Linked DNA regions of Homo sapiens: region 2 is linked to region 1. The links come from fine-mapping of genetic effects on gene expression. A gene starts in region 1. The other region holds a variant in brackets. All regions are shown on one strand. Distances are between the middles of the regions.

The links. PIP is the estimated chance that this variant, and not a neighbour inherited with it, causes the effect.
Region 2: its variant is the best candidate, but not a certain one, in a credible set for the expression of AMOT in whole blood (TOPMed, PIP 0.52).

Annotation. Positions count from the first base shown.
Region 1 is chrX:112,835,439-112,847,746 of GRCh38, forward strand. AMOT (angiomotin) reads right to left here and starts at 5,393. Exons shown (of 14, transcript NM_001113490.2): 1 at 5,014-5,393. LOC107985651 (a long non-coding RNA gene) reads left to right here and starts at 6,288. Exons shown (of 3, transcript XR_001755993.2): 1 at 6,288-6,430; 2 at 8,821-8,967; 3 at 11,529-11,641. RefSeq lists a silencer at 5,899-6,238.
Region 2 is chrX:112,860,771-112,873,078 of GRCh38, forward strand. No RefSeq gene overlaps it. Among named protein-coding and RNA genes, the nearest start is that of AMOT, 26 kb to the left of the region's middle. The variant A/G (reference allele first, on the strand shown) is at 6,710.

The sequences.
Region 1 (12,308 bases):
TCATATATTACAAAAAAAAAAAAGTTCCTGTTCCTCATTTGCTACTTTCTAAATACTAAAAACCCATACCACACTTTCTATTCCAGTTAGAGAAATTTAATCTAATTTATGATGAGCCACTGGTTTCCAGGAATGAATCCATCAAATCTTTTTTTTTTTTTTTTGAGACGGAGTTTTGCTCTTGTTGCCCAGGCTGGAGTGCAATGGCGTGATCTTGGCTTACTGCAACCTCCGCCTCCCAGGTTCAAGCAATTTATTCCTCAGTTTCCTGAGTAGCTGGGATTACAGGCATGCGCCACCATACCCAGGTAATTCTGTATTTTTAGTAGAGACAGGGGTTTCACCATGTTGGTCAGGCTGGTCTTGAACTCCTGACCTTAGGTGATCCGCCCGCCTCTGCCTCCCAAATCGCTGGGATTACAGGTGTGAGCTACCATGCCTGGCTAATCCATCAAATCTTAGAGATCACATGTATACCACACCTTTGTTATCAAAGGAAAATTAAAGAACTATGAAATTTGACTACATGGTGAAGACCTCAGATGAAGAACCCATTATGTGTGGGCCATTCTGCTGCTGCACTTCTTGTCTTTTATTTAACTGTCTAAAATCCTTAGTTTCTTTGCTATCTTTTAGTCTAATTTAAACATATTATTTTCCATGCTACAAAACAAGTATATTTGTGCTTTCCTGCTTCTCCTTTCTCATTCTGGAGATTTCATATTCCACTCAAATTTATACTCACTTGATGGGATTTCACCATACAGTGACTTAAAAATCATTGCCAATGATTTACACAAAGTAAACAGTGGACCCTAGTTTTGTTGTTGTTGTTGTTAACAAGAATGGGGGAGGGATAACAGGAGGTCAAAGGAATTAAATTAACAGCCTTGCTAGATACATGAACAACTCCTGAATCACAGAGAGTGTTTAGGGATTACTTATTATATCCATTAGCCTCTCCTGGCATTTGAGAAACAAAATATATGGGAGTCTTCATGTGTCCTCGGTCAGATTCTGACTTAGTTCCTCCACATGGGTTCACAAAGTTAAGTCTTGGGTGGGCTCTTATTGAAAAGCAACATTGTATATATCTGTGGCTCCAATTATCTAAAACTCATGTTAGTACAGGAACCAGGACTTGAAAGGAACTAGAAAAAATGAAAGCAGGTGATCTCTTAGGATGATGGAATTCTTGAAGTTTTGGACAGAGTCTTAGCTTCTTAATTTTGGGTTGTTAAAATGTAAAACATAATGCATCTATATTCATATATCCTTACAGGATCTTTTTTTCTTTAACATGATGACTAGATGATTGAATTTCTAACAACTGTTGCACTTCATTCTAGTAGCAATCATTCACATTCATACTAGATATTGAGGCCTAGAAAGAAAACCATAAACGTATAAGAACTGGCTCTCAAAATTACCCTGTCCAAACCCATAATTTACAGTGGAAAAAAAAAAACTTAACAGAGGTAGTAAACCGAGTTACAGTTGGGCCTAGAGCCCAGGTCCTTCTCACCAATAGGCTCACTAGGAAATCTTATTGCAGATTCTTAGGTTAAAGTGGCATCAGTCGCCATTATTTACTAGAAATAACTTTCTGGATCCCTGGGTTAGTCAAATACAGTAGCTGGAAATAAAACATTTTACCTATATGGGGTGGATAGTCTCATCCTTAGAATTGTTCAAAATCTATAAAGTCTGATTTATTTTCAAAAAGTAATACTAGCTTTCTTCTGCAAGCAGTTGTAGGCCAGAGCTAACGTGGCCAGCATTATTACAAGCCAGAATGATTTAGACAATTAACTAACTCCATTCCATATAACAAAAAGATTTCAAAGGCCAAATAATGGCCTCACTTAATTTAAGCGATAATCATTACAAATTCTTATGTATTCCTTTATGCAATAAATATGCTTCCGAGAAGGCCCAGTTAGAGTGAATTTTTATATATCAAGTCATAGTTTAAAGGCACTAACTAGGAAAGCTAGTACTTACAAAGAAAACCTGTTGTGGATTCTTTTATAAAGCAAATGACCTCCTATTTTCTTTCTTTCTTTTTCTTTTTCTTTTTTTTTGTTCAGATTGTGTGTGTTGTGTGTGGAAGGGGCGACTTCCCTCCTTTCTCTGGGTTAAAAGGGGTCAGAAGCCCACCATGGAGGAGAGTAATGCAGTATGGCCAGCCTGTTTAATACCCCCTTAGTTCCTGGGACAAAATTCTAACCTTTGACTTGGGGGTGGAACCCTAGAATTTGGACCAAAGTCCACAAAAGGCAGCAAGGAGGGAAAAGTAAGTAAGACTAAAGACAACACATCATAGTAAAACACCAACAAAAATTCCTGGGGACAGGAAATCAATGGATCACAATTCTAAACAAATTGGTTTAGTCCCCAGCTAATTAACTTGTCAAGCAGATCACTAAACCTACTGAATCCATGGGAGAAAGAGATGATGTAATAGGAGATTTGGAAACATTTACCCATTTACCATCCTAAAAGGCTCCAGTACGACCACACACACCTCTCCCCACCCCTTTCAGTGTTTAAGCTGGGCTTAATGGGTGCAAAGGACAATTTCTACCAGACAGTCCCCAAGAATAGACTGTTCTCATGCATTCCAAATGCTCAGTCTCCATGGAGGAGGCTACCTGGTCACAAGCATTTCCCAAGAGGGAATATATCCTCTATTCCTCCTCATTGGTAACAACTCCCCCACTCCACCCCCACGCCCCAAACAAAACAAAACAACTTCTAACCATCCTGAGAACTTCAGGGGACTTTTCTGGGGTAAAGGAAAAGAAGCGTTAAGAGGGGAACAGGAAAGTGTGAGAAACCCCTCTTGTCTCCAAATGGAAAAAAAGGCCTTAAAAAGCTGGATCAAAGGAAGAAAGGGGGATGGGGAAGAAGGGCCGCTTAATTACAAAGACACCCTTTTAAAGAAGGCGCAGGCCCTGGGAGAGGGCTCTTGGGAGAGGCACAGAAGCAGATGTACCCACTTAGAATTCTGGCACTCAATGGGACCTCAAGGTCATAGTATCCATCCCCCTGCCTTCTGATTAGGCTATTCTTAAAGCATTCTAGAGTCTGATGCAGTCTTTACAAAACCTCAGAAAGAAAAAGCAACTCTACAAATGTCCTTGTTGGGAATTAGTCTAATAAATCAAACTTCATAAACCAGAAATGAAATTTTAATTTCCAAATCCAAAACTGCATTGACTATGAATTATTAAAATTCCCTTTCTAAAATCTTTTAAATAGGTAAACAGATCCACAAATTTCATGTAAAAGTGACTCCACATACAATTGTGGTCAGAGGTTTACTTCACATCTAGACTGTGAAGGTAGAAAAAGCACTTACAATTTTACAAAGCCACGAACTTTTCCAAGGAAAGAAGTAATTTAAAATGAAGTATGATGTAGTGCCAGAAAGTGTCTGTCAATGACGCCGGATAAACCCATACAGAATAGTTGGAACCTTAGTTATCATCTGTAAATAGAGGCAACTACTCTACAACCACCTGGCTGTTAAAATGTCCCAGGCCAGTTATAAAATGTAGTTTGGTCAGGCCAGCTTTTCCCTCCCAGCTGATCTGAAACAGGATAGCCTTTAAAATTGTCGCCCTTCTCTACCTTCCTACTTTCCTTTCACTCATTAAAATCAACCAAAGTTATTTTAAAATGTATGTTAATAATGTGTTCCCAAATAAGCAATGGGTTAAGGACATCTCAGTAATAAGTCTTTGAACACCATCACTTACAGGCTTGACGCACTTGTCCAATTGAAGATAGGTGGGAGATGGATGAAAATGTATACCACATCCAAAATGGCATTTCAAACTATTCTTAGCTACTAAATGAGGGTGCTGAAAGGTCTAACTGAGAAGGCTTCACAAAGGCTGGCCTGAGAAAGAACTTTTCACAAAGCCTAGCTCAAGGAGACTTAAATATCCTTAGCCCTTCATCATTGAAGATTATGGTGACTAATTATCTTCTTCTCTGAATGGGAGAAGAGGGTTATATTCATAAAAGTTTTAAACTGCCTCCCAACGTCCACTCTTCATGGCGGGGAGGGAGGAGAACTTCATGCACTAAACATCCCAGGTTGTTGAAAAGTTCGTTCTAAAACATACACTAGAGATTGAAAATGCTGTTTCTCACCAACTTTCTCTTTCCTTGCTCATTTAATTCTACTTAGTCCCTTTATGCAAATTATTATATTATTATTAGTGGCAATCTACCAGGAACTGCTCACAGTCTATTAAAGACTGTTATTTTCCCTCCCCCTTTTCTTTCTCTTCATTTTCACAAACCCATGAAGCCCATCTTACTGTTGAAGCACCAATGTGCAGTGGCCCAGGCTTGGACCCTCAAGACACCCTCAAGATCCCCCAAAACTATTTACTAACATCTTTGGATCTTCTAAAGCAGATAGGGGCAACTCCCTCCTCACCACCACTATCACTACCACCACAAGCACTACCACCACCACCACACATCTCAAAGAGTAGCCTTGTTTTAGATTACACAGACTTTAAAACTTCAAGAATTCACGGTCCTACCCCTCCTGCTCCCGCCTCAGGGAGTGTGAGTCCCCACCCCAAGCCTAAGCACTTAGCAGAAACCTATCTAGTTATCTGAGATAAGCACTGACATGCATGCTGGGCTAAATGTAGATTTCAGCTTCCCTCGGGTCTTTAGCTCCTCAATGTGATTAATTACCTAGAGACCCACAAGAACCCCAGGAGGTAAAGAAGTAAAAGTACCATCTAGTAGTGGTACCCACTAGCATCTCCTCACCGAAGTAGGACGGGAAAGCAGCGCACACTCTAACCGATTTAACTTGCTGCACATCCAAAAAAACTCATGGCGAGCTGCAAAGAAAGTAGAACACACGGGCATTCCCACACGCGCCTAGATCGATTCACTCACGCCGAGGGCACGACCAAGTTCATGCCACCATGGATTCCTGCCCCAGTTCCCCGCGAAAAGTAACCACGCGTCTCCTACCCCTGAAGGCAAAGAAGACAAGGTGACGACTCTCTGCTCGCTCAAGTGGCTTCGGTCCCGGGCCAGCGGCCAGGGATGGGCAGGGGGGAAGCCCCAACTCCCGGCTGCTCCCCTCCTCGCTGCTCCGTCCGGGCTCTCCTTGGTGGCAGCGGACAGGCAGGATACCGGGCCAGAGGGTGGAGCAGCGGATAGCCGGAGGCGAGACTGACTGGAGGTGGTGGTAGTTGAGGGGGAGGCGGAGAGAACTAAGAGAAGAGGAGGCGAAAGAGAGCGGAGATGGAGGAGTAATTCAGGGGGTCTACCAGTTTAGGCAGCCAGAAAGCTCCTCGGAAGGAAGGGGCGTGACTGCCAAGGCAGCTCCTGGGCAAAGGATGGGAGGTAGGGGAGGGGGACGAACGGGTGGCTTTTCTTCTTGCGGTGAGCGGCTAGGACCGCCCCGGAGCAGGGCGGCGGGAGGGGTGGACGAGGGAGGAAGGCGGAGTAGAGGGCGGGGAAAGAAGGGCGGGAGCCTGCCTGGACCCTGGAAGTGAGGAGTGAGGGGAGCGCGGAAGAGAGGCGGGGCCGGGGGGCGTGGAAGTTTCAAACAATTGAACCGCGGGGTCCGGGAGCTCGGGCGAAAGCAAGGGACCCTCGCTCTCGCCTTCCCACTAGAGGGGCACGACTCGGTTGCCGTAGCCGTGAGAGTCTGCGCGGGGACTGGCTGGGAAGAAGGAAAGGGTTTTGCAAAAGACTACAATAATAATCTGCGGCAACAGCGCGGCATAGACGCGTGGGAGAGCCAGTGCAGCTCCCCGCCCCACTGCGGGAGGAAGAAAAACAAATAATAGAAATGCTGAAAAGCAGCTTCCACCAAAGCCTGCTTAAAATAATGCAGGAAGGAGAAGCGCTCCTTCGTTTTCCTTCCCCTCTTGCTTCCTATTACCAGCAGGCCCCCACCCAGGTCACAGCTCTGCGAGACACCCTCCTTTCTTCCTCCGCTCCCCCGCCCCGGGCGCTTGCCCCCCTCCCGTTGGCGGGCCGCAGAAGCTGAGGGGCGAGGGAGGAGGGGTCGCGGGCGGCGCTCCGCGGAGGCTCCGCCCCTGGGCGGGCTGGGAGCGCCGGCCTGGGCGGAGCGCGTCCCTGAAGCGTAAGTCCCGCCCACCATTCTTTTGCAGCTACCGGTTGGCCCAGCCTGGCCTAGTATACGCTTGCGATTGGGCCCTGGAGTCGCCAGTCTGATCCCTTTGTCCCACCCGCCCTCAAAATTAATAAAACTAAACAAGAGGCTATTGTGTAGTTCTATGTTCTACCCCAGCTACTGCTGGCAAGAGAAAGATGAGACGCTTTATTTCTCAGTCTCATAAAAGAGTGCAACAGTGTGTCGGCCGACTCTGGTACGCCTTTATGTTTATGGCACTGTCCAGCTTTCTGCGAATAGGTAACTTTTCTTCCCCCTTAGTTTATTAAATCAGGAGGGGGGAAAGTACATGAAGTGTCATTGTGGTGTTCTGCTGACTGTGAAAAAAGCTGACATTGGTTAAAAACGAGAGGGTTGAGAACAGCATCCTGGGACACGGAAAATCTACCATTTTACATCTAGAAAAACGAAGGCACAAAGAAACAGTGTCAGGGTAGCAAAATAACATGGAATTTGGAACCAAAGGAAGAATTCATTTGGGGCCCTGGCACTTACTAGCTAATTGTATGACTTCTGTTAAGTGGCTTAACTTCTCAGCCTTAATTTTTCTACCTGTAAGTAAATGCTGTAAGACATGCCCTATTAACTTAAAGGCACTGGTATGAAAATAAAATGTGTGTGAAAACTATAAAGCACTCCACACATGTATGTGTTCCTACTTGTGTGTGAAACATAATGGAGAGTCTTAGATGTGTTAGAGGATCAATATTTTGCTCATCTGTTTTAAGCATTTACATCCAAGGTCGTGTAGGTTTTGTGGCTTTATTTTAAAAAGTCAACTCTTTTCCTACAATTTTGGGGGTGGATATGAAGTTGACTCCCTGCAGTTAGAATAATAAATTACCCCTTTTCTAAGCAGGGTGGGTGAGATTTCTTTTTTAAAGTTCTACAATTTCATGACAACTTAAAGCTATTGTGGTTCTGGTACTGAAAGAGGAAATCATGCTGTGTATCTCCGAAGTGAACTTAAGAAAACAAATATGAAGGAACATTTACCATGGAAACCACCATTCTCTACAGATCCATATTTCCTAGAAAACATTTCAAGTAGGAAGCAAGCCTAAATGTAAACGCCTTGACAGCGCAAGGCCATTATAATGGCTCATGCCAATGAAAGAGTGACATCCAATTCAAGCCTGCCTAATGGGAGCCATCTGGGGGGCCATGGATCAAGGCATGCAAGAGGAAGTGTGCTTAAAGGAAACACTATCACACAGTAAACAGGGGCTCAGAATCCAACTCTGCAGGAAAAGTAGTGGACTATTGCATGTCATGGAGTGTGCAGCATGCTCTGCTAGGAGCTGTGGAAAGATTCAGAAGCAGGAGTGTGCACAAAATGATTCTCGTTATGATTCTGTTTATGTATGAAGTGAGGTTATTTGGGTGATTTTTCATGGAGAAAGTGAGTTTTTGAATGTTCAAAATATGGAGACACCTGGTTTGTGAAGCAAGGAAAGGTTATTTCAGCCTTGTTATTTGGAGTGGACAGGAGAGCTAGATGTGGGGGGGCGGGTATATGCTGCAGGACTACTACCAATCACAGAGGCAAAAGGATATTTGTTAAAATCAATGCTGTCCAAGTGAAAAAAGTTAAACATGCACATGGAAGAATTCAGATAAAACGGTACTGGGCTGGGCACGGTGGCTCACACCTGTAATCCCAGCACTTTGGGAGGCTGAGGCGGGTGGATCACTTGAGATCAGGTGTTCAAGACCAGCCTGATCAATATGGTGAAACCCCTTCTCTACTAAAAATACAAAAATTAGCTGCACGTGGTGGCATGCGCCTGTAGTAGCAGGTACTCGGGAGGCTGAGACAGGATAATTACTTGAACCTGGGAGGCGGAGGTTGCAGTGAGCTGAGATCAGCCACTGAGCTCCAGCTACTCGGGAGGCTGAGACAGGATAATTACTTGAACCTGGGAGGCGGAGGTTGCAGTGAGCTGAGATCGGCCACTGCGCTCCAGCCTGGGTGACAGAGCGAGACTCCGTCAAAAAAAAACCAAAAAACACCAAACAAAAAGGTACTGAAAGACTACAGTGAAAAGTTCTTCTCCACCACTCTGCTCCCATAGTCCCATTCTCTTTATGACTGTATGTCATCTTCCAAATAGATTATTTGCATATTCAAGCATGAGTGCATATTCCCTTTTTGTTCCTTACAAGTGGGATCATTAATCAAGGCACACCTTGCATTTGTTTACTCAACAATGTATTTGAAATATTCTTCCATCTCAGGATAACTATGTTTACCTTATTTATTTTATTATAACTCAATATTCTATTGCATAGCTGTGCCAAAATTCCTTTACTCATCCCCTTATTAAATGGGGATTTGGGAGACAGACACGGTGGTGGCACACGCCTATAGTTCCAACTACTAGGGAGGTTGAGGGAGGAGAATCCCTTGAGGCCAGGAGTTCAAGGTCAGCCTGGTCAACATAGCAAGACTCTATCTCTAAAAAAAATGGAAGCAAATTTGGGCTATTTCCCATCTTTTGCTACTACGGAAGATGCTATTTAAAAAAATCCTGGTAACAAAGGCCTGGTGGCTCATTTGTAGTATGCCTGCCCCTAGCCTTGAAGTTGCCTTCAAAACACTTTTCTAACATGCTTTCCTTTCCCCACAGCGACTTATACTGTGGAGCAATGGAATTGGAGCAATGGAAACCTCTAAAACACTTAATTCGTTTAACATCCGCTCCTCAAACCCTGCTTGGGCATTACTCTTCTCCAAATTTTGATGGAGTAGAGTTAGCAGAACTCTGAACTTAATGGTGAGTCAGGCTGTGTGTGAGTCATTTCTTAACCTGTGGCAAACAGCTTTTTGGTACTTCTGTTTAACCCAGGTCTTCCAAGCCTTCTATCCTGCCATGCAAGACTTCTTTGTTTTCACCCTGAAAACCTTTCAGTTTGTTTAAACCGAGTTTGGATTTAAAGCTGTGCATTGCCTGCACTACTTAAAAGAGAGGGGGAGGGGGAGGCCAACATCAACAAACATCGATTGAGCCGCTATTATAGACAAGACTGAAAAAACAAAGAGGCATGAGACTTAGCTCCTGCCTTCAAGGATATAAACATAAAAAGACAACTAACAAGCATGTGCTAAGTGCCAAATGAATGGTATTGACAGTAAAAGCTGTGGAAGTTAAGAGCAGAGAGTGAAAACTAGTTCCAGAGAGTTAGTTTATACAGCACACTGTGCCACACACATTTAACTAATCCCCACAGCATCCCTGTGTCTTCATATCCTGACTATAAAGTATAGAAAGCCCTCTGGGGGAGACCAGGAGAATTAACCACTAGCTGTAAAACACCTGTGTAAAGACACTGGGTTGCCTAGATACTACACATTAAAAACCTCCATATAACGATATGGAAAAAAGGAGGATCATTTTAAGCTCAGAAGTCAAGATTCCACATCCCAAACTACCTGTCCTATTTGGCCTTTATTTTTTTTTCTTAAAATACACCTTTATTGCACAATAAAAATCAATATCTGTGCTGTACAAAATAAAATCCATTAAAAAAATCAAATGTCTACCTTGAAAACATTACACAAAATGAAATAAGCCAGATACAAAAGGACAAATATTGTATGATTCCACTTACATGAGGGATCTAGAATGGATAAATTCATAGAGATAGAAAGTAGAGTAGTGGTGATCAGGGGCTGGAGGAAGAGGGAGTGGGAAGTTAGTGTTTAATAGTACAATTTCTGTTTGGGATGATGAAAAGGTTTGGAACTAGATAATGGTGATAGTTGTATAATATTTTGAATGTACTTAAAGCCACTGAATTGTACACTTAAAAATTGTTAAAATGGTAAATTTTGTTACGTATCTCTTACCACACACACACACACACACACAAACACACATGCACACACACAAAAGCTAATAACCCTTAGGCTTAGTGTCAGGAGACAATGCCAGTGATAGGGGTTGCAAGAAGGCAGAACCCATGTGAAAGGGGCAGCCTGATCACCACTACAGGGAAATGCAGGCCAATGTGACCACAGCTTCTGATTTTTCAAGAGAAACCAGAAGTCAAATGTTTTTAATATAAAATCTCCAGTGTTTCATGTTGCCAACTAATAAATGTCTTAATTAAAAAATCTTCCCTTTGTGTGCAATATTTTTGTCCAACGTACAGGAAAAGTAGGAAGGAGTGTATAGCTTATGGTCTATTCCCAATCCCTGGCCAGATTCTTCTTGAAGGAAAGATGATAAAACCATAGTGCTTTGCATTGAATGGCATTCTCCCCCACTTACCAAGTGAACCAGGAATATGGAATGTGCACATCTTCCTCTAGTTGCCTAGTGAACAACTAAATGATTTAAATGCATTTATGAACAAAAGCAGAGGCAAGCACGTATACGAGAAAAAATAAATCTTAAAGATTTATGTCTCTATACATAACTGTCCCCCTTAATTCCTCCAAAGACAAACGTTGAGAAACAGCCTTCTCCAGGACACCTCCAAAAGTCAGCCTCCTATTTATTCATAAGGACACACTAGCCCTGTACATGCAGAAGCCAGCTGATCAGAAAATAGCAGGTTTATCTGAACAGGAAAGGAACAAAGGGACACATATGCAATACACGACTTCAGTTAAATGCTCTTCCTTCTGGATTCCCTCCCTCCCCCCTTCCACCCTTCCCAACCACACACACACACACACACACAGCATGCACACACAGTCCAGACACAGGAAGTTTGAAGCCCGATCCATGTGTGGAAAACAGCAATGTGGGAATTCAGGAAACAACACCAGAACTGTGCTCCAAGGCCAAGACCTGCTCCAGCATTTGGGAGCCAAGTTGCTCCTGGGGTATTTGTGGGCCCCAGCATTTTGGAAGTAAATCGGCTGTAGAAAAATAAAGCTGCCTACAAGTCTATTCCCCAAACACCTCCTAAGGTCTTGTTTGAGTAACCTGGGCTCGCCTCTTTATGATTTATGCAGGGCTTCACTTCAGCTTAACTAAATACCATATCTCCTTCAGCAGCTTGAGTTTCTGGAAAGGCCCAGACTGTCCATACTTCTCAGTAGGGTTTATTTGCAAATTCCTAGGTTAGCCGGAGCAAGAGGGAAGCAGGGAGGCTGAGGAACGTACATCAGTCTGTACCCTGAAAGGTGGTGGGCTGAGAGGGAAAATATAATTTAGTCAATGGTAAAAAACAAACCTCTGAAAGCAAGTCAGAGGAAAATCAAATTCCTGAGCCAGTAAACACGTTAAATGTACAGAGTTAGCAGGATTTAGAGGAAGTTCATCCTCTGACATTACCCTTTGCAAATAAACTCTTGATTGATTCAGAGCTCTCTCTGTTTCTGTAGTTGCCAGAGTGTCTGAGAGTTGTTATCCCAGTTGGAGGAGAAGAAGGCTGTGACTGCAGTAGAGATTTATCTTCTCTGGCTCGCTGCCCCACTTTAGGAACTCCAGGGAGAAGGTAGGTCAATGCCATTCCAGTGTGATTTAAGGCAGGCCCACCTTGCAGGCCCAAATCAGCCTTCTCTTCAGGTCTGCCACTGTCCTGTGAAATTCACACAGGAAAGACCCTTGTTAAAGTGCAAATATTAACCTGGGAAGGGTTAAATAGTAAGCCATCCTTGGTGTGCTCTGTGGAAGGGGTATAGACTTTTGGAGTCACCCAAGCCTAGATTCAAGTCACAGCTCCACTACTTACCAATGAGGCAGATTCCTTAACCAGCCTGAACTGCCATTCCCTCATCTGTAAAATAGGGATAATAATTTTTCCACCATAAGGGTTTCTTTGATAATTAAATGAAATAACACATTTAGAGGTCCTATCATGATGTCTGGCATATAGTAGTCCCTTAACACAGTTTATTTCTTCATGCCCCTCCATTCATTCTTCTTAGGGCATTCAAGGGTGTAGGACAGTGGGTTTGCTTGGTGGCTTATAGAGCTTAAAAGCACCTAGCTGTAAGGCCCTCGCAATCACTCTTCTCTACTAAATCTGCTCCACAGGGCAGTGCGAGGCTAAGCTATGGGCTTCCGCACCAAAAGGACTTAGTTTCATAGTCTTCATTCTATTGCTCACTAGCTATGTGACTTCAGGCAAATTTTGAGTATCAGTTTCCTCATTTGTAAAA
Region 2 (12,308 bases), 25 kb after region 1:
CATTCAAACCACTACCGTGTGTGTGTGTGTGTGTGTGTGTGTGTGTGTGTGTGTGTGTTTGCGGGGGGAGGGGGGGCACAGGCAGGGAAGTCTGTTTATAGATTTTTACCAGATTCTCTGGGGGCTGTGATAAAAATAAAAATTAAGAACCCATAATCGTTAAGCTCTTTTTAAGTCCAACATTCTATGACTTTGTAATTGGTGTGGTACATATGACTTGGTCTTAGTAAAATACCTTGCATGTAAGAGGTACTCAGTAAATTTGGGTAGGTTTGATTTGGCATTGGAATTATAATAATATTAATATGTAACATTATTGAGCACTTACCATGTGGTAAGCACTTTCCAAATGTCTTATGTGTGCTAATTTATTTGATCTTCACAACAACCCCATGAAGTAGCATTATCAGCCCCATTTTTTATGAAAAAGCTGAGGCACAGAGACATTAAGTAACTTGCTTAAGGTTACACAGATAATTGGTGGCAGGGGTAGGATTCTAATTCAGCCAGTCTGGCCTCAGAGTCTATGCCCTTAACTGCTATACTTTGTGAAAGTACTCAGTTTCAATTTTAAAATTTATGGAACATCCATTGTCATAAAAGACAAAGGACTGCTGTGGAAATGTTCCAGATAAAATGGGGCTAAAGAGACATGACAATTAAATGAAATACCTTATCCTAGCCTGAATCTCATATGGGAGGGGAGCAACATCCTATAGAGGGCATTATTGGGCCAATTGACAAAACTGGAAAAGAGTTAGTAGACTAGATAAAATATTGGACTGATGTTGATATTGCTGAAATTATTAACCGCACTGTGGTATGTAAGACAATATGCTCATAGCTAGGAAATATACATCAAAGCAGTTAGAGGCAACAGGCCGTGATGTATGCGATTTACTCCCAAATGATTTGGAAATTTAGATAGACAGATAAAAATGATAAAGCAAATGGGGTAAAATGTTTATAATAGGGTTATTATCATGGGTAAAGTATAGGTGAGTATTCTTTGTGCCGTTTTATTCTTGTAATTTTTCTAAGTTTGAAATTATTTCCAAACAAGACGCTCATTTTTAAAAATGTATGGATCTTTCTTGGGGAGCTGGATGGCTCCCTTTTGTTAAAATATTTACATTTGATGCTAAATGTGCAAATAACATATTTTAGCCTTCTTTTTTTTTTTTTTTTTGAAACAGAGTCTCACTCTGTCACCCAGGCTGGAGTGCAGTGACGTGATCTTGACTCAGTGCAACCTCTGCCTCCAGGGACCAAGGGATTCTCTTGCCTCAGCCTCCCAAGTAGCTAGGATTACAGGCACCCGCCACCATGCCCAGCTAATTTTTTTTTTTTTTAGTAGAGATGGCGTTTCACCATGTTGGCCAGGCTGGTTTTGAACTTCTGACCTCAAGTGATCCGCCCGCCTTGGCCTCCCAAGGTCCTGGGATTACAGGCGTAAGCCACTGTGCCCAGCCTGATTATTTTAACCTTCTTATTCAAATCTGCTAATGTTTACTGAGTACCTACTATGTGCTAGGGACAGTCACATATAATGTATTATTTAATAATCTCCCAAATACTATGCTATTTATTACCCATCCCATTTTTCTGATGAAGAAACTGAGTTTCAGAGAGGCTTGGTGACTTGCTTAAAGTCACAGGACTATTTAGTGACAGAGCTGGGATTTGAACCCAGCTCCTCTGACTCCAGGCCTCCTGCTTTTTACGTGACCCATAGCTACCTCCAGTTACAAATAGCCCATTTAAACATTTCTGAACATAAAAATCTTTATTGTTAGCCTAACTTTCTGACCCAGTGGTCTGAAGGTCAGTGGGAGGGTTTTCTCTCTTTTCTTGGCTCCACTAGTGATGATAGTCTCGGGCCGTGAGGAGCCGAAAAGGGAGGATCAGACTAAAAGAATAATGTTTCTATCTTTGATAAATGGAATTGGCATTCCCACGTGAACAGGAAATGTTGACTTGTTAATATCCTCCTTTGGGTTTATTACATGCAGTCTATTTACATCCTTTGAATATACTCAGTCAGGAGGTATTCAAGACAAGCAGCCCCATCTCAGAGAGATATCCTCTTTTCTGTTCGTCTGTCTACTGACAAAAAGTAGAGAATATTGGCCCACCGTGGTGGCTGACGCCTGTAATCCCAGCACTTTGGGAGGCTGAGGCAGGCGGATCACGAGGTCATGAGATCGAGACCATCCTGGCGAGCACTGTGAAACCCTGTCTCTACTAAAAATACAAAAAAATTAGCCGGGCATGGTGGCGGGCGCCTGTAGTCCCAGCTACTCGGGAGGCTGAGGCAGGAGAATGGCATGAATCTGGGGGTGCAGACAGAGCCTGCAGTGAGTCAAGATCGCGCCACTGCACTGCAGCCTAGGCGACAGAGCGAGACTGTGTCTCAAAAAAAAAAAAAAGTCGAGAATATTAAGCATACTGCCTAATTTTATTATATTACAACATGGCACAAACATTTAAGATTAGTTACATGTGGATTGAAATATTCTTTATGATTGGATGGACATAAACCATTGTATATATTTATTGAATGTCTATAATTTTCATAGCGCTGCAGCACTGTACAGTAGGTACAGTAGGGGTCATATGGTAGATATAGACTATGTCCTCAAAACCATACAAACTAGTTTGAAAATGAGACATAAGAGCAGAAAATATTACTGCAAGGTGATAGTTAGGAAAGGACTATATAGGCAAAAAGTGCTTCAGTGTCCAGAGGGGAGATAATCATTGTGGTCTAGATTCCTCAGGGACTGCTTTTTTTGTTTGTTAGTTTGTTTGTTTGTTTTTGTTTTGAGACGGAGTCTTCCTCTGTCGTCCAGGCTGGAGTGCAGTGGCGCGATCTCAGCTCACGGCAACCTCCACCTCCCGGGTTCAAGCAATTCTCCTGCCTCAGCCTCCTGAGTAGCTGGGATTACAGGCGTGTGCCACAATGCCCGGCTAATTTTTTTTGTATTTTTAGTAGAGACGGGGTTTCAACATATTGGCCAGGCTGGTCTTGAACTCCTGACCTTGTGATCCGCCCGCCTCGGACTCCCAAAGTGGGGAACGCTTTTTTTTTTTTTTAAATAAACTGGACCTTAAAGGGCAAATAAGATTTGGATAAGCAGAGGAAAGGCATTCCAGTGGATGGTCATTGAGGTGGGAAGGCATAGGTTTCATGAGCTAGTATTGAATCAGAATGTAAAGAGCCTTGAAATTGGTCAATGGGGGGTTATTAAAGGTTTCTGAACCAGTAAGTTGCGTAATGAAGCAGTGTTTGTAAATGTCCTGGCAACAGTGAGTAGAGAGGAATAATCATGGGTTCTCAAACCTGACTGCACATTAAAATCAACTGGGGAGATTTACAAAATATTGATGTCTGGCTCCTAACCTCAGAGATTCTGACTTAATAGTATGGGATATAGCCTTGGCCTTAAGATTTTAAGAAGATCCCCAGATATTCCTAATATTCAGCAAAGTTTGAGAACCACTGCAATCGAGAAAAGAGAGATACTGGCATGGAAACTAGCCAAAAGGCTGTAATAACACAGGGATAGTAAGAACATGAGTCCTGGGACTGCTGAGGTGGGGGACAAGGGGAATAGAGAGGAAGATTTGGATACAGGTGACATTTCAAAGGAAGAACATACTAAGCTTCAGGTTAGACTGAACACAAAATGAGAGGAAAGATTTAAATATGCTAGCAAGATTTCTGAGCTCAATGTCTTGTTCATGGGAAGCACCCAGTTAATATTTGCTGAAATAAACTGAACTTAATATGATAATATGGAGACTCATGCTCCATTAGTAGAAATCTGAATGTCAGGGGAGAAAAACCAGTTTGGATGTTGGAGGGGGATTTTATTCCTAGGCCAAGTATGAGATGACAGAAAATTATGCAAGTCATAGGGCAGTTTTGCGAGGTAGTACTGGAATTCTAAGACAAAATCAGGGCTGGAGATTGCCACTTACAAACCATCTTCATAGTTGATGGTTGAAATCCTGAGAGTGGATGATCTCATCTAGGGAAAGGAATACAGTAAGAAAAGAAGAAGATTGATGATAAAACATTAGGGAAGGCAGAGTCATGTTTTTGTTGTTGTTGTCTTTTTAATCAGTGAGAAGGTCCTGTGCATGTTAGTAAGCAAAGAGAGAGTCAAAACATCCAACAGGAGCAGGAAGAGAAGAGTTACCCAGCACTGCACAGTTATCCTGAGAAATAGAGGACAATGCCCCTCTCTTCAGGTAGGTTATGATCCAGCTGTGTAGACAAGCCATGGTACTAGCTATATTAGTCAGTAGAGTTGTCCATGCTGAATGTGACAATACGTGTTATAAATGTTCATAGGAAAGTCAGGAAGGTTGAACTTGGAGAATGGCTAGGTGTACATCATGTTTTGGGATTGGAGAGAAAGATGCTTTCATGAATTCAGAGGTAGAGAGAAGCAGAGTTTGAGAGGACAAGTGTCATCTGTTTTAAAAAGCAGGCCCCAAGGCCCATGTTTTCTTTGTTACCTTCCCTGAACACTTCAGGCCATTTCCCACTCCTGCTCTCACCAGGACCCAAACTTAATATATCGTTTTCTTTTAATCCAGCCGTGCCCTGAGTCACCAGACAGACAGAGCAATTCTCTTAATTTGCCATAGCCTAAGATTTCCCTGGGGGAACATGTAAGAAAATATTGCTGCTGTTTGAGTAGTTCATTCCTTGGAATGTGTGTGAATCGGTTGGTTAAAATAAGAAAAAAACTAGGTGAGTTTAGTCCATCTCAGAAAGATCTAAAAGTCTTTCCTCAGGGTTCATTCAAGTATTTAGTGAATGAATGTGTTTACCATGTTCAGTACTGTGTACCCAGACAAGATGTGGGACAATGGCCCAGACAATCGCTCGATATCACAGTATTACCATGGGGCAGGCCTCACTGTGCCTCTCAGAATAATCTCAAGTTGCCAACCTACTGTGCAGCATAACCTGAGACACTCCACAGGTTACTAAATCAGCTCATTATTTGTTTAGTGCCCTGCCATTTGTTTGACATTATGTAGACACAAGGCTCTATTGAATAAGGAGAGTGTATTAGCTGATAGGTCATAACTGGGACCTTGGAATTACAATCCAAACAACCTGTCACACATTTCAGTCACACGTAGCAGCAATATAATTCTGTTGCTTTGGAAAAAGTTAAAAGCTAGTTTTACAATAAGAAGACAAGCTCTTGAAAACAGGGAGGGGTGGGGTTGGGTGTGATTGACAGACTGTCATTAGTATTTGACAGATATCTATGATTGTTTTTTGTAACAGGAAAATTGGTGATTCTTAAAAGCAGTTTTAGATTCTTCTATTTTTTTTTTTAAAGAAAGCCTCTTTCTTCAACTTTTCTGTGTAGTGTCAGTAAATGAACTGTTTCCTCTCAAATCATGCATATTGCCTTGCAGCCTTCAACTGCATAGTAATATATCACAAACATTTGGATGTGGGAAGGGGAATGGCCAGAAATAACCATATAGGTCATATGGGTTTCAGATGCATCTGTTTACATACAGAGGGTTCCTACAGAAGACTGTTTCATTTCAGGGAATATTTTACCCTGATGACAAACTGTAAGTTAGTGAGTCATTTTCATGGCCTGACATTTTGCTGTTAAAGTGCTTGAGAGAGGGTGTATCGCTTTTACAGGCTGCTTGTGTCCTAAAGCAAGTTGCAGGCATCATGTATGACACAACACAGGCTGTATTGGATGCTGGACCTTTATGAGACTGGGTTTAAAATGGGAACTTGCATTTTAAAACTTTATTTAAATTACCTTGTTATAGAGTTTAAGACTAGTTGTAATAATGGGTAATTTGAGAACCACAGAATAGGATTGGTATAAATTAGTCATAATGCCTACAGTGTTACAGCTAAATATTGCCGTGATCACTTTTCCGCTAATTAAAACTCTTCATTTTCATAAATCTCTGGATTCCTATTGACACACTTATTGTATTTTCAAAAAGAATTCAGGAAGTCCTCATGTCGAGTTCCAAAAGTTTGTTTTTTTTTGAACTCAGAAACAAATTTCCTATATAAACAATGTTATAAATTATGGTGATATTCCCAAACCAGTCCACCTAAGGCTACTTAACCTATAATGTGCTTGAAGTAAAGCTTTAAGTACATCATATATAATAACATTTCTATGAAAAACAGTTCTGCAATGAGGACACATGGACATAGGGAGGGGAACATCACACCACAGGGCCTGTGAGGGTGGGGTGGGGGTCTAGGGGAGGGAGAGCATTAGGACAAATACCTAATGCGTACGGGGCTTAAAACCTAGATGATGGGTTGACAGGTGCAGCAAACCACCGTGGCACATGTATACCTATGTAACAAACCTGCACATTCTGCACATGTAACCAGAAAAAGTAAAATAAAAAAAAAAAAGAAAAGAAAAACAGTTCTGATCCAACATAGGAAGACCAGAATAAATTCCCCTTTCCTGGGGTGGCTCCCCTCCAGCACTGTTCCCTACCCTTACTCAATCCTTTATCAGGCAGGCAGTGTGAAAGAGAACAAACCCTGACTCCAAGATAGTGGTGATCTCTTCAGGAACAGGAAAAGAGAAGGAAGGCAGACACTTTTAGGCATTTGAGGCTGCTCCCACCCTTTTTCTTTTCTATCACCAGGTATTGGTCTGCCTGCTACCCTGAGAAC[A/G]CACAGTTTCTTTAAGGATTTTTGTGGGTTTTTATTGATAGTAGTAGTGAAAATAGGGATAAAAATTCTCAGATCTGTGCTTCCACTTCTATACATTCATTTACTTACTCAACAACCATGTATTAATCAATTCCTATGTAGCAGGCACCATGCTTTAAACCCTGGGGATATAAACATGAATGAGCCCTTGAGGTCCTCTCAGTCTACTGAGGGATGCAGACATAAACAAACCATTGCAATACCGCATGCTACCTGCAGTGATAGAGTGCTCTACCAGGTAGAGCGGTGATACAAAAGAGGCAGTGTTCTGCTTGGTCAAAGAAAGCTCCACAGAGCAGACACTAAGCCTAGTCTTGAAAGATGAGGTGTTCAGCAGGCATACAAAGGATTCTGAGAAGTCATTTTAGGCAGAGACAAGAAGTCATGAAATACCACATTTTGAAAAGAGCAATGTGGTGTGGCTTGATCAGAGGTACAAAATGGGGCAGTGTTAAGAGATGGAGCTAGGTAGGGGCTTTAGTTAAAGAGCCTTGCATGTCAGGCTGAAAACTTGGCATTTTATCCTATAGTGATTAATGGGGAGTACTGTGGTCAGATTTACCACTGCAGTGGCAATATGGAAAATAGGTTAAGTGGGGGACAAAGGGTAAGCAGACTTTTAAGCAGGACAAGAGGAAGGGAGAGACATGTTTTCATTTATTTATTTTAATTTTAATTTTTAAAATTGCTAATTGGGGTAAAATACATATAATGCAAAATTCACCATCTCAACCATTTTTAAATGTATAGCTTAGAGGTGTTAAGTACATTCACATTTTTGTGCAACTGATCTCCAGAACTCTTTTCGTCTTGCAAGCCTAGATAGAAGTCTATACCCATTAAACACTAACTCAATGCTTCCTCCTCCCCATGTCCCCTGGTAACCACCATTGTATGTTCTGCCTCTGTGAATGCTCCAGGTATGTCACATAAGTGGAATCACACAGTGCTTTTTTTCTTTGTGATTGGCTTATTTAGTTATTATAATTTTTAAAATGAGGGTAATTTAAGTTTGCGGCTTTAAAAATTCCAAATAACACCAAAGTGTATAAAATGAAAAGAAAAAGTCTGGGATGGATGTCGGCTTTGCTAAAGAAATCTTTGACATCTATTTAGAAACTAACATTTACTGAGTATATGCCAAATGACAGTGCGTTGAGTGTTTTACATGTGTAATTTACCTCTTAAAACATAGGCCATGTCATTTACTCATCATACTTTATCACTTAATCATCGACAGTCCCCAAGGAGAGGAATCTGACAAGAATTAAGCAAGAGGTCAGGGTTAATGCCATAAAGACTGGAATGGAGAAAAGAGTTTCTGTGCCAGTGAGAGAACAGGAGTGTGCTCTGGAAACAGGAAGCCCAGCCTCTATCAGTGAACTCAGCACAGCAAGGCCTGGGGAGGGTGTGTAACCTATCCTCTAAACTGTATTTCATGGAAACATACTGGTTTTCTGTAGTATGTTAGCACATAGTCATCAAAAACAAGCAAGCAAAAAAATTCCTGGTCAAATGGATTTGAAAACAGTTCATAGTAGATGCTTCTCCTAAAGATTTATAGCACATAAGCTTGTTAAAATCTCTGAGAATTTAATAAGTAATAAACCTGTTGAACACTTATTATTTATTTATTTATTTTTATTTTTGAGATGGGCCCTTGCTTTGTTGCCCAGGCTGGAGTGCAGTGGCACAATATTGGCTCACTGCAGCCTTGACCTCCTGGGCTCAAGCTATCGCCCACTTCAGCCTCTTTAGTAGTTGAGACTATAGGCATGCATCACCATGCCCAGCTAAGTCTCATATTTTTTTGCAGAAATGGGGTCTCACTATATTGCCTAAGCTGGTCTTGACAATAGACCTGGGTTCAAGCAATCCTCCTGCCTTGGCCTCCCAAAGGGTAGGGATTACAGGCATGAGCCACCGCACCTGGCCCTATTGAACATTTAAACCACTATTTCCCAGATATTTTGACCACCATATATATTTTCTTTTCTCCCTAGCAATATCTATCTATCTATCTATCTATCTATCTATCTATCTATCTATCTATCTATCAATGTGTGGTGGGACTCTAGTGTTCTATAAAACACAGAAGCACAGTGTGTAGGTAGCGTCTTGGCTTGGTTATAGCAACCACATGCCACGGGCCTCCCATGCAATGTTGGTAACATCCCATGAAACCTAGAAAGACTAGGTATTACATGGTATATTTTTGGTGCTTAGAGTATGGTATGGTATTTTGGAGTTGACATCTGAATTCCTTACAAGGTAAGAAACCTGACATTAGAAGGTTAAATTGACATTTCTGGAGTTCTTTATAGAATTGATGCTCCCACTAGATCTGTCCAGAATGTGATGTTCTATTCACTCAAGCAATAACATTGGAGTACATCCCATTATTGCTAAAGTAGACTGATAACCACACACTCTTCTAGTACATAATGAAATACAACTTTCATGAATTTCTGAAAGACTTCAAGGCTGTTATGGATAGTACAGTGTCTGAACTGGTGCACATTGTATTCAGTCTGGAAGGTAGTTTTCTTCTAATCTTCCTTTCATGTTTATATCAATTTGAATGTCTTTCAGAGACCTAGGTGAGAGGAAATGTAGTCTAAGAAGTCATGGATAAGAAATATCAGTTATCTATCCTGGAGAGTGATGACATTAAAGTCTCAATAATACTTATGAAACTGCAGTGGGAAGTAGGAAGTGGTAGACAGTTGTACCTAGTCTTTCTAGGTTTCATAGGATGTTACCAGCATTTCATGGGAGCCCTGTGGCGTAATGGTAAGAACACAAGCTTTGGAGTCAGATAGACCTAGGCTAAATTCCAACTCTGCAAATAAAAATTTATGTTATCTTAGCAAATTATTTAAAATATTGTAACAATATTGATCTAAATAGGATTATTGTCACATAATGTATCTAAAATACCTGGCATGATGCCATGCACACAATAATAATAATGAGAGAACCATTGGCTCTCATTATTATGAGAACATTTAATATGTGCTGATTGTGTGGCCGGATGCTGTGGCTCACGCCGGTAATCCCAGCACTTTGGGAGGCTGAGGTGGGCAGATCACAAGGTCAGGAGATCGAGACCACCCTGGCTAACACAGTGAAACCCCGTCTCTACTAAAAATACAAAAAATTAGCCAGGCGTGGTGGTGGGCACCTGTAGTCCCAGCTACTTGGGAGGCTGAGGCAGGAGAATGGCATGAACCCGGGAGGTGGAGCTTGCAGTGAGCCGAGATCAGGCCATTGCACTCCAGCCTGGGCAACAGAGCGAGACTCCATCTCAAAAAAAAAAAAAATGTGCTGATTGTGTTAAGCACTTAATATCTATTATATAATTTAATATATCCAAAACTATTTTGAACATGGGCCTTCATAATTCTGGATTTGATCATGGATATGGATGACTCATGACTTTGGGGCTATGATGCCATCCATTACGTTGAAACTAGATTCTCTTAAAAATAGGTTGCACAAATATGCATCCTTAGGTAAATGTTCTGCTTTCTATCTAAATTCAGCTCTTGGATCTAGAAAGTCTCTCTTTGACATCTTACTGATTACAAACTTATCTTCGTACATCAGTCCCAGATTTTTGAGCAATGACTCAATTTCTATACCTGCTATAGCAAAATATGCAGGTAGCCTTACTACCCTCACTGGATGTCTCTTACACTGACCACATTACATATCTATCAAGAATACTTCACTCTACACCAAATGTGGTTTTCATCTTTGTATCTTCCAATTCCAACTGTTTCCAATGCTGTTTTCATCATAGATGACCACCTGACAAATATTCTAACAGCAGAAATATCCTTCAGCAAGCAATACCTTAGAATAAGCTTAGTTCCAATCCATGACAAACCCCCAGAGGACATCTCAGTAGAGGTCTGGACCTGTCTGCTCAAAAACCTTTGATTACAAGCGCTTGGATGCTGTAGTGGATATACCTGGTTTTTCTGTCCAGCACCCTTACCTCATTTGGTGGAACTGCTCCTTGTGCTGTACAATCATGTGATTTTGTTGAGGCAGCTGCTAATCATAGTGCTCTATCTCATTGGTCACAGGGCTTGGGTGCTGACCCAAGCCCATTCAAACATAAAACTCCATTTCTGTAACTACACTAATTACTCTGGGTTGAGTATGTGACCAAGCTTAGCCCATCAGATTCCTTCCTTGAAATTTTCAATTTTGATCTAGAGAAAATTGGCCTTACTTTTGAGGTCATAAATCTAGAATAAGAAAGGGAGCCACAAACAGGCATCATTCCTGCCATATGGAAAAATCTATCTTAGGAGAAGAGAATGGGGCCAACAAATAAAGGAAAGCAAAAGATGGACAGAAATATTCTTGATGGTATCATTTCAGCATCTGGCTCAAATATGCCATATCTACCTTAGACTTCCCAGTTAGATAACCCAATCATTTTGGTTTTTTTCCCAAGTGACTTTAATTTGGGTTGCTGTCATTTGAAAATGTACTTTCCTATAATGGCCATGTTCAAACTGGTCGTCTGGCTCCCTCCGTATCCCAGATATAGTCTGTGCTCCAGCAACCCCTCCTCCTTTTGTGTAAACAGGGCAACACTTCATACCTGGCTCTCTGTGGCCCACCACTGAGCACCAATCTAGCAGTATTATACTCCAACTAGTAATGGAGCAGATGTTTTGGACGTAGCCATCCAGTGAAGGAATTGGTCTTCAACATCAGTAGAAGCAGATAGGATTTACAATGAAACAATGGGGTATCCTAATAGGGGACACATTACAACAACGAGGAAATAGAGAGGTGGACAATGCTCAGAAAGTGGGAGTAATAAATTAAATTGGCGAGAAATGTGTTTTTCAGTTTTTTTTTTTTTTTTCAGTTTTTTGGGGCTGCCTCTAGTTATTCTTGTTATCTCTAGTTAACTATTTACCTATTTACCACTACTAATATCTAGTTACTCTCAGTTATTTAAATAAGAAATAGGATGTTATAATTGATTGGAATGTGTGTTTCTGATCTTCTAAGCTTCAGTTATTCTTGTTGTCTATAATATTTAGCTATTAGTTTGCTTGTTACTAGTTAACTAATCGTGTCATTTCTCTGTTTTTTGTTTTCTATACTTCTCGCTCGCTCTTCTAATAAGAAATGAAAAGTTAGATTTAAGAGGAATACTTTTTAGCTTCTTGGTTTACTCTAGTTATCTCTAATTCATTATTTATCTAATCAACGTTAGTTACATCTAGTTATCCCTAGTTATTCAAGCAAGAGATGAGAAATTAGAGTTGAGATGAAAATATCATCGTGAGTTTCTTGGCTTATTCCAGTTATTCTAATTATCTAGTTAGCTAGTTACTAGTTAAGATGATCCTCTATTTTTTCTAGTTTTCTGTAGTTGTCACTATGATTTTAACATGAAATAAGTTAGATTCGAGAGGATTTTGGTTTTGTTTGTTTTTTGCATCTTGGCTTCTTCTAGTTATCTTTAGTTACCTTTAGTTAACAAGTTAGTTACTACCAGTTACATCTAGTTATCAATAGTTGTCCA